2 separate regions of the Homo sapiens genome follow, and region 1 is linked to region 2. Evidence: fine-mapped expression QTL. A gene starts in region 2. The other region holds a variant in brackets. All regions are shown on one strand. Distances are from middle to middle. Region 1 overlaps MRPL22 (mitochondrial ribosomal protein L22). Region 2 holds the start of CNOT8 (CCR4-NOT transcription complex subunit 8).

What was found. PIP is the estimated chance that this variant, and not a neighbour inherited with it, causes the effect.
Region 1: its variant is fine-mapped to the expression of CNOT8 in fibroblasts (GTEx, PIP 0.94).

The regions. Positions count from the first base shown.
Region 1 is chr5:154,942,885-154,947,279 of GRCh38, forward strand. All of the region lies in intron 2 of MRPL22 (mitochondrial ribosomal protein L22), which reads left to right. Among named protein-coding and RNA genes, the nearest start is that of MRPL22, 4.0 kb to the left of the region's middle. The variant C/T (reference allele first, on the strand shown) is at 2,279.
Region 2 is chr5:154,856,358-154,860,752 of GRCh38, forward strand. CNOT8 (CCR4-NOT transcription complex subunit 8) reads left to right here and starts at 2,270. Exons shown (of 7, transcript NM_001301073.2): 1 at 2,270-2,411. RefSeq lists enhancers at 1,064-1,565, 1,566-2,069, 1,945-2,114, 2,070-2,572, 3,076-3,578 and silencers at 2,315-2,414, 2,475-2,534.

The sequences.
Region 1 (4,395 bases), 87 kb after region 2:
GCTCTGAGCAAGAAACTTAAGCAGTTTGCCTTTAGTCTTTTCCTCTATGTCATGATACAAGAGTGTTTGATTTTGCTAGATAATCTCTAAGGCTATTTGCAATTCTGAAGTTATTACATAATTTTGTGAATCCTTATTTTGGATTTTCTAGTGGGGAAAATGACCATAAGAAAACTAAGTAGAAAGGTATAAATAATGTTCATGATAACCATGTAAAATTTTAGCATATAATCTGATTCAGTGATGAGAAACTTTTTTTTCCTTTTTTTTTTGGAGACACGGTCTCGCTCTGTGCCTAGGCTGAAGTGCAGTGCTGTGATCATAGCTCACTGCAGCCTCAAACTCCCGGGCTCCCACCTCAGCTTCCTAAGTAGCTAGAACTACAGGTGCATGCCATCACACCTGGCTAATTTTTAGGGTCTTGCTGTGTTGCTCAGGCTGGTCTCTAACTCCTGGGCTCAAGTGATCCTCCTGCCTTGGCCTGGAGGGATTACAGGCATGAGCCGCCAGGAAACTTAATTGCATATAGGCCCCAGACTAGAAATAAATAAACTAAGGGAAGTTGTCTATGTAAAATGAGAGTGGGAGGGCCTGTGGTGGTCAGTAGAGTGTATTCCTCATCTAAAAACATTGAATTAGGTTAAGAAAACTGCTGCTGACCAAATAAAACATTTCTGCAGGATATATATATATATACACACATATATGCACATATATACATATATACACATATATATACATATATACACATACATACATGTATATACACACACATATATATATAGATATTAAAATTTTTTTTTTTTTAAAGACAGCGTTTTGCTGTGTCACCCAGGCTGGAGTGCGGTATCATGATCATAGCTCACTGCAGCCTCGATTCAAGCCATCTTCCCAACTCAGCCTCCCAAGCAGCTGGGATCACAGGCGTGCACTACTACACCTGACTTTTTTTTGAGTTTTAGTAGAGACAAAGTCCTGTTATATTGCCCGGCTGGTCTGAAACTCCTGGGCTTAAGTAATCTCCCACCTCAGTCTCCCAAAGTGCTGGGATTACTCTGTAGGCTATATTTGTTAGCTGACTGACAGTTTTCAGTTTTTGAATTCCAAGTCTCCTATTTTACTGATGCATACATTTGAGAAGTTTTGTGACTTACTGAAGGTTACACAGTTAAATGTCAAAGTGAGGATCTAAACAAAATATTTTCTGGGACTACAGGTGCAGGCCGCCATACCTGGCTAAGTTTTGTATTTTTAGTAGAGATGGGGTTTCACCATGTTGGCCAAGCTGGTCTCAAACTCCTAGGCTCAAACGATCCGCCCGCTTTGGCCTCCCAAAGTGCTGGGATTACAGGCATGAGCCACCACGCCCAGCCAAAAAAATATTTTTTTTTAGGAGACAGAGTCTCACTATGTTGTACAGGCTGGTCTCGCACTCTTGGGCTCAAGTGATCTTCCCACCTCAGGCTCCCGAGTCTCTGGGATTACAGACGTGAGCCACCAAGCCTGTCTGTACCACCCTTTAGATGGGGGCATATCCTCTTAAGCTTTCCTCAGTTTCCAACCATGTGTAAAATTTTGGCATAGTTATTTACACTCAGTCCTCTTACCTTACCTGTCTCTGTATTCTTTCATTGATTCTACAAATATGTATTTAGTGCCTGCTCTGAGCTGGGAACTATTCTAGCACTGAGGATTTTGCAGGGAACAGGAACAGACAATAATCCCTTGCCATTGTGGGGTGTACAATATAGTAAGGGGGGCAAATAAGCAAAATAAGTAAAATATAGAGTATATTAGATAGTGACATCTGCTTATGAGAAAATAAAGCAGAGATTGAGAATAAGAAGTATGTGTGTTTGAGAGAGGAACTTGTAGTTTTAGATAGGGAAGGCCTCACTAAAAGATAATCTTTGAGTAAAGATTTGAAGGAAATGAGGAAGCATGCTGTGCTAACATCTGAACAAACAGCATTCTGTGCAGATAGAATAGTAAGTGCAACAGCTCCAAGGAACCATATCTGGTGTCAGGAACAATGACAAAAAGGAGAGGGATAGTGATAGGAGATGAGGTCAGAGAGGAAGGGGCAGTCATAAATCATATAGAGCCTTATTATTTTTTGTAAATACTTTGGCTTTTATTCTGAGCAAGATGGGAAACTGTTGTAAGGTTTTGAGCATGGAGTTATATGATCTGACTTATGTTTATGAGTGGTTCTTTCTGGCTGCTGTGTTGAGAATAGACTGGGGTGGGGATGGGGAGCAAGGATGGAAGCAGAGAC[C/T]GTTGGCTATTTCAGGTATGAGATCATGGTGGCTTGGATTAGGGTGGCCGTGAAGGTAAGTGAATGGTTGGATTCTGGCAGTATGTTAACCACACCTGACAGATCTTGTTGATGCATTGGATGGGAGGTGTGAGAAAGAAGGGTGACACCAAAGTTTATGACCTGAGCAACTGGAAGGGTAGAGTTAACCACTTACTGAGCTAGGAAGACTTCCAGAGGAGCAGGTTTGGGGAGAATATTAGTAGGTCACTTTTGGGTTTGTTAAATCTGAGCTGTTGTAAGCATCCAAGTAGAGATACGAGTAGGCAATTGGGTATATGAGTTTATAGAGTTCAGGGAACGGATGTACATTTGGGAGTCATCAATGCATGGATAATGTTTAAAGCTGCAAAGCTGGTTGACTTCACCAAGGGAGTGAGTGTAGATAGAAAGAGTCCGAGGATTGATTCCTGCCTAAGGCAGCCAATATTACAGACCAGGGAGGGAGACAAGGAAACAACAAAGGAGACTGTGGGGGAGTGGCCAGAGAGGGGAGAAGAAAACCCCAAGTGTCCTGGAACCCAATTAAAGAAAGTGTCTCAAGGAAGAGTGAGTGACCAGAGATACTTAGGTCACTCTCAGATGAGGACTGATAATTAGAATTAGAATTTGTCTGTATTTTCTGTTTTAAGGTTGCTTCATTTTGTTTTAATTGAGTGTTATTCCAGCAATTGGCCAGGAGAGGGCACATAGGAACTTTTGATTTGATATTCTGTGCTTCTAAATTAAGAACCCCATTTGGAATAATACTTTAATTTAATTTGATTATAGTAGTTTGGTCTTTGCTTGATAATTCAGTTCATGAATTATTTGAGTCCTGAAAGTATTATAAGAATTCAGAAAGCTTTGACATTATTAATTCATAGTATGTTTAATTTATGAAGCAACATATTTAATTCACCAAATATGTATTGAAGATTTGAAGAGCGCAAGGTACTGTGCTAGGCGGGTACAGCAGGTATGGGCCTGACTCAAGAAATCTTTCAGATTGGTTTGTAGCAAAGGGGTTCATGTTTCTGTCATGCTGTTGGTGATGAGATTAGAGATAGAATTAAGGTTAGGAGAGGCCTTATAGATGATGTAGTCTAATTCCTCTTTTCACAGACAAAGAAACCAAGGTCCAAAGAGGTGACAAACATAGTGTACCCTACTCGCTAATTACAACTACATAGAACCATAAACGTTTATGATTATAAACTTGAGAAAAAACTTTGAAATTGTGTATTTAAAGCTTACAGTTCACAGGACTTATTTGGGGGCTGGGGACAGGAGAGATTAACTGTTCAAAGGGCCTAACTTTGTTTTATTTTTTATGCCCTTAAAAAAAGAAACACGGGTGTGGTGGCTCACACCTGTAATCCTAGCACTTTGGGAGGCTGAGATGGGTGGATCACCTGAGGTCAGGAGTTCAAGACCAGCCTGGCCAACATGGTGAAACCCCGTCTCTACTAAAAATACAAAAATTAGCCAGGTGTGGGGTGCGGTGGTGCGTCCCTGTAATCCCAGCTACTTGGGAGGCTGAGGCAGGAGAATCGTTTGAATCCAGGAGGCGGAGGTTGCAGTGAGCTGAGATCGCACCATTGCATTCCAGCCTGGGTGACAAGAGTGAAACTCTGTCTCAAAATAAAATAAACAAAACAGAGGCAAGGCCTTGCTATGTTGCCCAGGCTGGTCTTGAACTCCTGGCCTCAAACAGTCCTCCTATCGTGGCCTCCCAAAGTGCTGGTATTGCAGGCGTGAGCCACCATACTTGGCCAAAGGGCCTAATTTAAAAATAACACTAGCCATCAGTGTTTATCATGGGCTAGACATTGTAGGATGCACTAAATTATTAATCCATCAACAGTATTAAGTAAGTATTATTTTCCTCATTCTACAAGTAATAATATCTAAAATTTATTGAGCCCTTTTAAGTGTCAGGTTAAGTATTTTACTTGCATTTGAGCTTCTTAAGAAGGCTATGAGGTAATTATTATTAGTCTATTTACTGATGGGAAAACTGAGACCCAGAAAATTATATGACTTCCCCAAGGCCATTCACCTAGTAAATTAGAGTTAGGATTTAGACCAAGGTCTGC
Region 2 (4,395 bases):
GCTAACAGGGTGAAACCCCGTCTCTACTAAAAAAAGAGAAAAAAATTAGCCGGGCATGGTGGCGGGCGCCTGTAGTCCCAGCTGCTCGGGAGGCTGAGGCAGGAGAATGGCGTGAACCCGGGAGGCGGAGCTTGCAGTGAGCCGAGATCGCGCCACTGCACTCCAGGCTGGGTGACAGAGCGAGACTCAGTCTCAAAAAAAAAAAAAAAAAAAAAAAAAAAAGAAACCCATAGAACTGACTGGGGGATGGGGCACTTGCCTGCCTTCTTTATCAGTGTATCCCTCAACGGAATCACTGTTTATTTTTTTATTTTTTGAGAGGGAGTCTTGCTGTGTCGCCCAGGCTGGAGTGCAGTGGCACGATCTAGGCTCACTGTAACCTCCGCCTCCTGGATTCAAGCAATTCTCCCTGCCTCAGCCTCCGGAGTAGCTGGGATTACAGGTGCCCTCCACCACGCCCAGCTAATTTTTGTATTATTTAGTAGAGACAGGGTTTTGCCATGTTGGCCAGGCTGGTGTTGAACTCCTGACCTCAGGTGATCCGCCTGCCTTGGCCTCCCCAAGTGCTGGGATTACAGGCTCAGTGAGCCACCAATCCCGGCCCCAAATCGACTGTTTTAGGGAGAGCAAACTGAGACATGCCATTTATTGAACGCTCTTTTATATCTTCCTCGGTGCGGGGTGTTTTTCCAATTATTAACTATTTAATCTTCACAAGCTCACGACAGCCATTCGTAACCTAATTTTGCAGATAAGGAGCTAGACACTCATTTGGGGGGGAGAAGAGGAGGACTGGAGTTCAGAAAGTGCATTTGATGCTCTTATCCTGGAGGCTGGAGCTAGTTCACCTCCCTGGAGAACAGCTTTTGGGAATCCCGTTTGAAATTGCCGCTCAAGGCCAGCTCGGCATCCAGCCTAGGAATTGGAGGATTTTGGAGAATCCCCTTAGGGGGAAATGTTTAAAAGTGCAAAGTGAATAGTAGAAGCCCCTCTCCTCGTCACTAGGGGTACATTTGCCGTTTTCTTATCAACAGCCTCTCAAGTACAAGCATCTGGGACAAGAACTAGAACCGTGCTTGGGGCAGCCCCCACGTCCTCTCGGGAACAGGGGTGGAGCGCTGGCGGGAGTGGCTGAGGGCGGCCCGCCGCCGACACTGTGTGCAGGAAGCGGGCGCTTTGTCTGCTCTCCCACCGCGGAGAACACGAGGCGGAGGCGCGCCCCAGCTGGCCACACGCTGCCCAGGGCCGGCGTCGGTCAAGAGCCCTCTCTTCAAGCAGGATTAAGAGGGAACCAAGGGGCTGGCAGAGGGGCCTCAGAAGCTCCTGGGCGAGGCCTGAGCCCGTGGGTCTCGACACTAAAATCTGGCGAGCTCCCTGCGCGTCCGCAAAGATTTTGGAGCTCTGAAGAGCCCGGCGACGCCTGCGCTGGCCAGGCGCCGTGCCCACGGGAGGCGCCGTCCTCTTTGTAACTCGAGCAGACCCTGGCGGGCCAGTTGCTATGGCAATGTTCCTCGCTCTGCTCGGTGAGGCCGGGAGGTAGGCGGGCCTTGGCGGACGTCACCCACATTCGGCTTTGGGGAGCCGCCCCACCCCCAACTAATTGTTTGCCAGAAAGGAACCGTAGGATAGATGCTTTGTGAGACATCTACGGGGCCATGTTAGAACAGAAAGTCGCGACAGCCTCTTTCTCCGTCAGCCTCTTCACAAATCCCTTCGTGCCAACGATTTTAACGGTCCTTCAAAGCCAGGAGGAGGGGGCGTGGTAATTCGAGGGGTTTGTTCGAAGGGCCACGCCCTTTCCTCGGCCTTTGGATTTTTCCAGGCCGCGCCCACGGCGGGGGGGTGGGGGGGGGCGCTAGTTCTAGACCACGCCCCTTCCTTGTTCGCTCGGAAAGAGGACCAAAATGGAGGAGTAAGAATCATGATTAAATTGAGCGAGCGCAACTAATCACGCGAAGAGGGCCGCAGGCGGGCCGTCTTCCGCAAGCGTGCTTCCAGGCCTCCACTCCCCACCTATTCGGCGGCACCCTGTTACTTCTGCTCCTGCGCGCTGCTTCCCGCGACCTCACAGGCAGAGCGAACACGCACGGAGTCGCAGGGGCGCGCAAAGGGGGAGGAGCGGGCGTGACCAGGCGCGCGCGCGCGTCTGGAGTGACTCTAGAGAGCAGGCGAGTCGGGCGGATCGGGTGGGTAGAGTGGTGCCGTCCGGTTGTTTGGTGGGAGGCACGTAAGACCGCTCTGGGCACGGGGGCGCTCACCTCACTGGCTCGTTCGGTTCTAGGAGCAGATCCGGGGTAGAGGGAAAAGAGCTCCGGGCCAGGGGCTGCCGTCGCCGCCGTCGGGGAGTCAGCCCGCCAGCCCGCCAGCTCGTCAGCCCGCCAGCCAGCGCTTCGCGGGCCCTGTCGGTCCCGGTAAGCGGGCCTGCGCTTACCGGAAAGAGGAGCGTAAGATGAAAGAGTGTGAGAGACCATTGGGGGTCTGTAGGGGGAAGGGGAGTGGGGGCGTGTGTAAGGGGCAGGGTGTGTGAGGAGGAGAGGAACCCCAGCAAAGAGTAGTAATAATAATGGCCACCGTCACACGATAATATTCGAGTAATATGTGCGGGGACTTTACAAAGCATCTCATATGCTTCATTTTAACTTCTACTCCAATCCTCCGAGGTGCGTACTGTTATCAAACCCATTTTACAAGATAGGAAAACCGAGGCACGAAATAGATTAAGTGGCTTATGCAAGGACACACGACTACTACGTGGCCTGGCCTGGCTTCGAACTTAGTTATCTTAGTCCTAAGGCCCGTAATTTTAACTTTGCTTTACCAAACAAAAACAGAAGAAGAATGGCGTGTCAGAAGGAGGAGGACTGAGTGTGATTTGAAGTGGAAGGATGATGATAAACGAGAAGAGAATGATGATGGGAGACGGAGTAGTGGGGAGGAGGACCTGAATTTGGAATCTTGCGGGCCTCCCCCTTCTAAATCGCCGCCTCTTCCTTAGTTCTTGCGGCCCCATAACTTTTTCTTGGTGTTCTATGGCTTTATGAATGGAGGAGCCAACTCACAGACCTGGGCCATTCGGGTGGTTTTAAGAAGTTTGAACTGCGGTTCAATCCAGGGCAGTGCCTTGAGACACTGTTTGGAGGTAAGGGAGGGTCAGAGGATCCTCTTAAACGCTGCTGCTATTTATTTCTTCAAACGTGCCACTTCCTTTTCTATCATATCTATGCACGGCAAAGCCTTTGTTCAGTCCTCTAGAATAAGGAAGTGATGTTTATTGTTTCCTTGTACACTTGGGCTTAAACGAACAAAATCAGACTCAACGTTTCTTTTCCCGAGCAAGGCCTTGATTGCTTGCAGAGAAAACTTTCCTGTGGCTTTATCATTAGTTGCCCTTCAGAGCTTTCCTGTGTAAATAAGAAGCTATGTTTTGGAGAAGTTTACACCGTAGATGAACGGGAGCGATCTGAACATACTGCACTGCAGGTCAACACAGAGCAGGGACTTCAGTAATTCATAGGTGTGAGTGTGTTTGTGAAAACCTTTCCTTCTTGCACAGTTTTCTGTGTAGCTCATGTGGGAGTCAAGTTTTTAAGTCAGCCCGTGAGGCAAACATTGTATGTAATAAAAATTAACCCTTAAAAATTCCTAGGAAGGTGCAACGCTTGAGATTAGCATCCTGTTTCTGACTACATCCTGGACGGTTTTTCCTTCAGTTTTGAAACTTGTTACTGTTGCTTTGGTTGTAACCCAGATAAGTAATTAGATTACCTTTAGGGGCTGTGTTGTGCAAATAAGCATATTTGAAAGCCATAGAGTTGTGATGCGCTGTGAGATGCTTGCCCTGAGGAGGCTTAAAAGGAGGAAGACAAACCCCTATCTTAGGCTCATTTTGGAGCATGTGCTTACAAAGTGGAAAGTGGCAGGCAGAATTGCTGGTATGATGATGATGATGATGATGATTTTTTTGAGACGTGCTCTTGCTCAGTCGCTGAGGCTGGAATGCAGTGGCGTAATCACAGCTCACTGCTGCAGCCTTGACTTCCTGGGGCTCAAGTGATCCTCCCAGCTCAGTCTCCTGAGTAGCTGGGACTGCAGGCACACACTACCATGCCTGGCTAAGTTTTTGTACTTTTTGTAGAGACGGGGTCTCACTTTGTTGCCCAGGCTGGTCTCGAACTCCTGGCTCAAGTGATTCTGCAGTCTCAGCCTCTCAAAAGTGCTGGGATTACAGGTGTGAGCCACTGCCCTTATCCTGCTGGTATTTAAGTTGCTATTTTATTTTATTTTTTGGCCAGCATATGCAGTAATTTGACTTGCTAAATTAAATGTGCATAGTGCGATTCCTCTTTAATTTTTGAGTGGCACTACATTCAGGGGCTTGCAAGCTATTGTTTACTT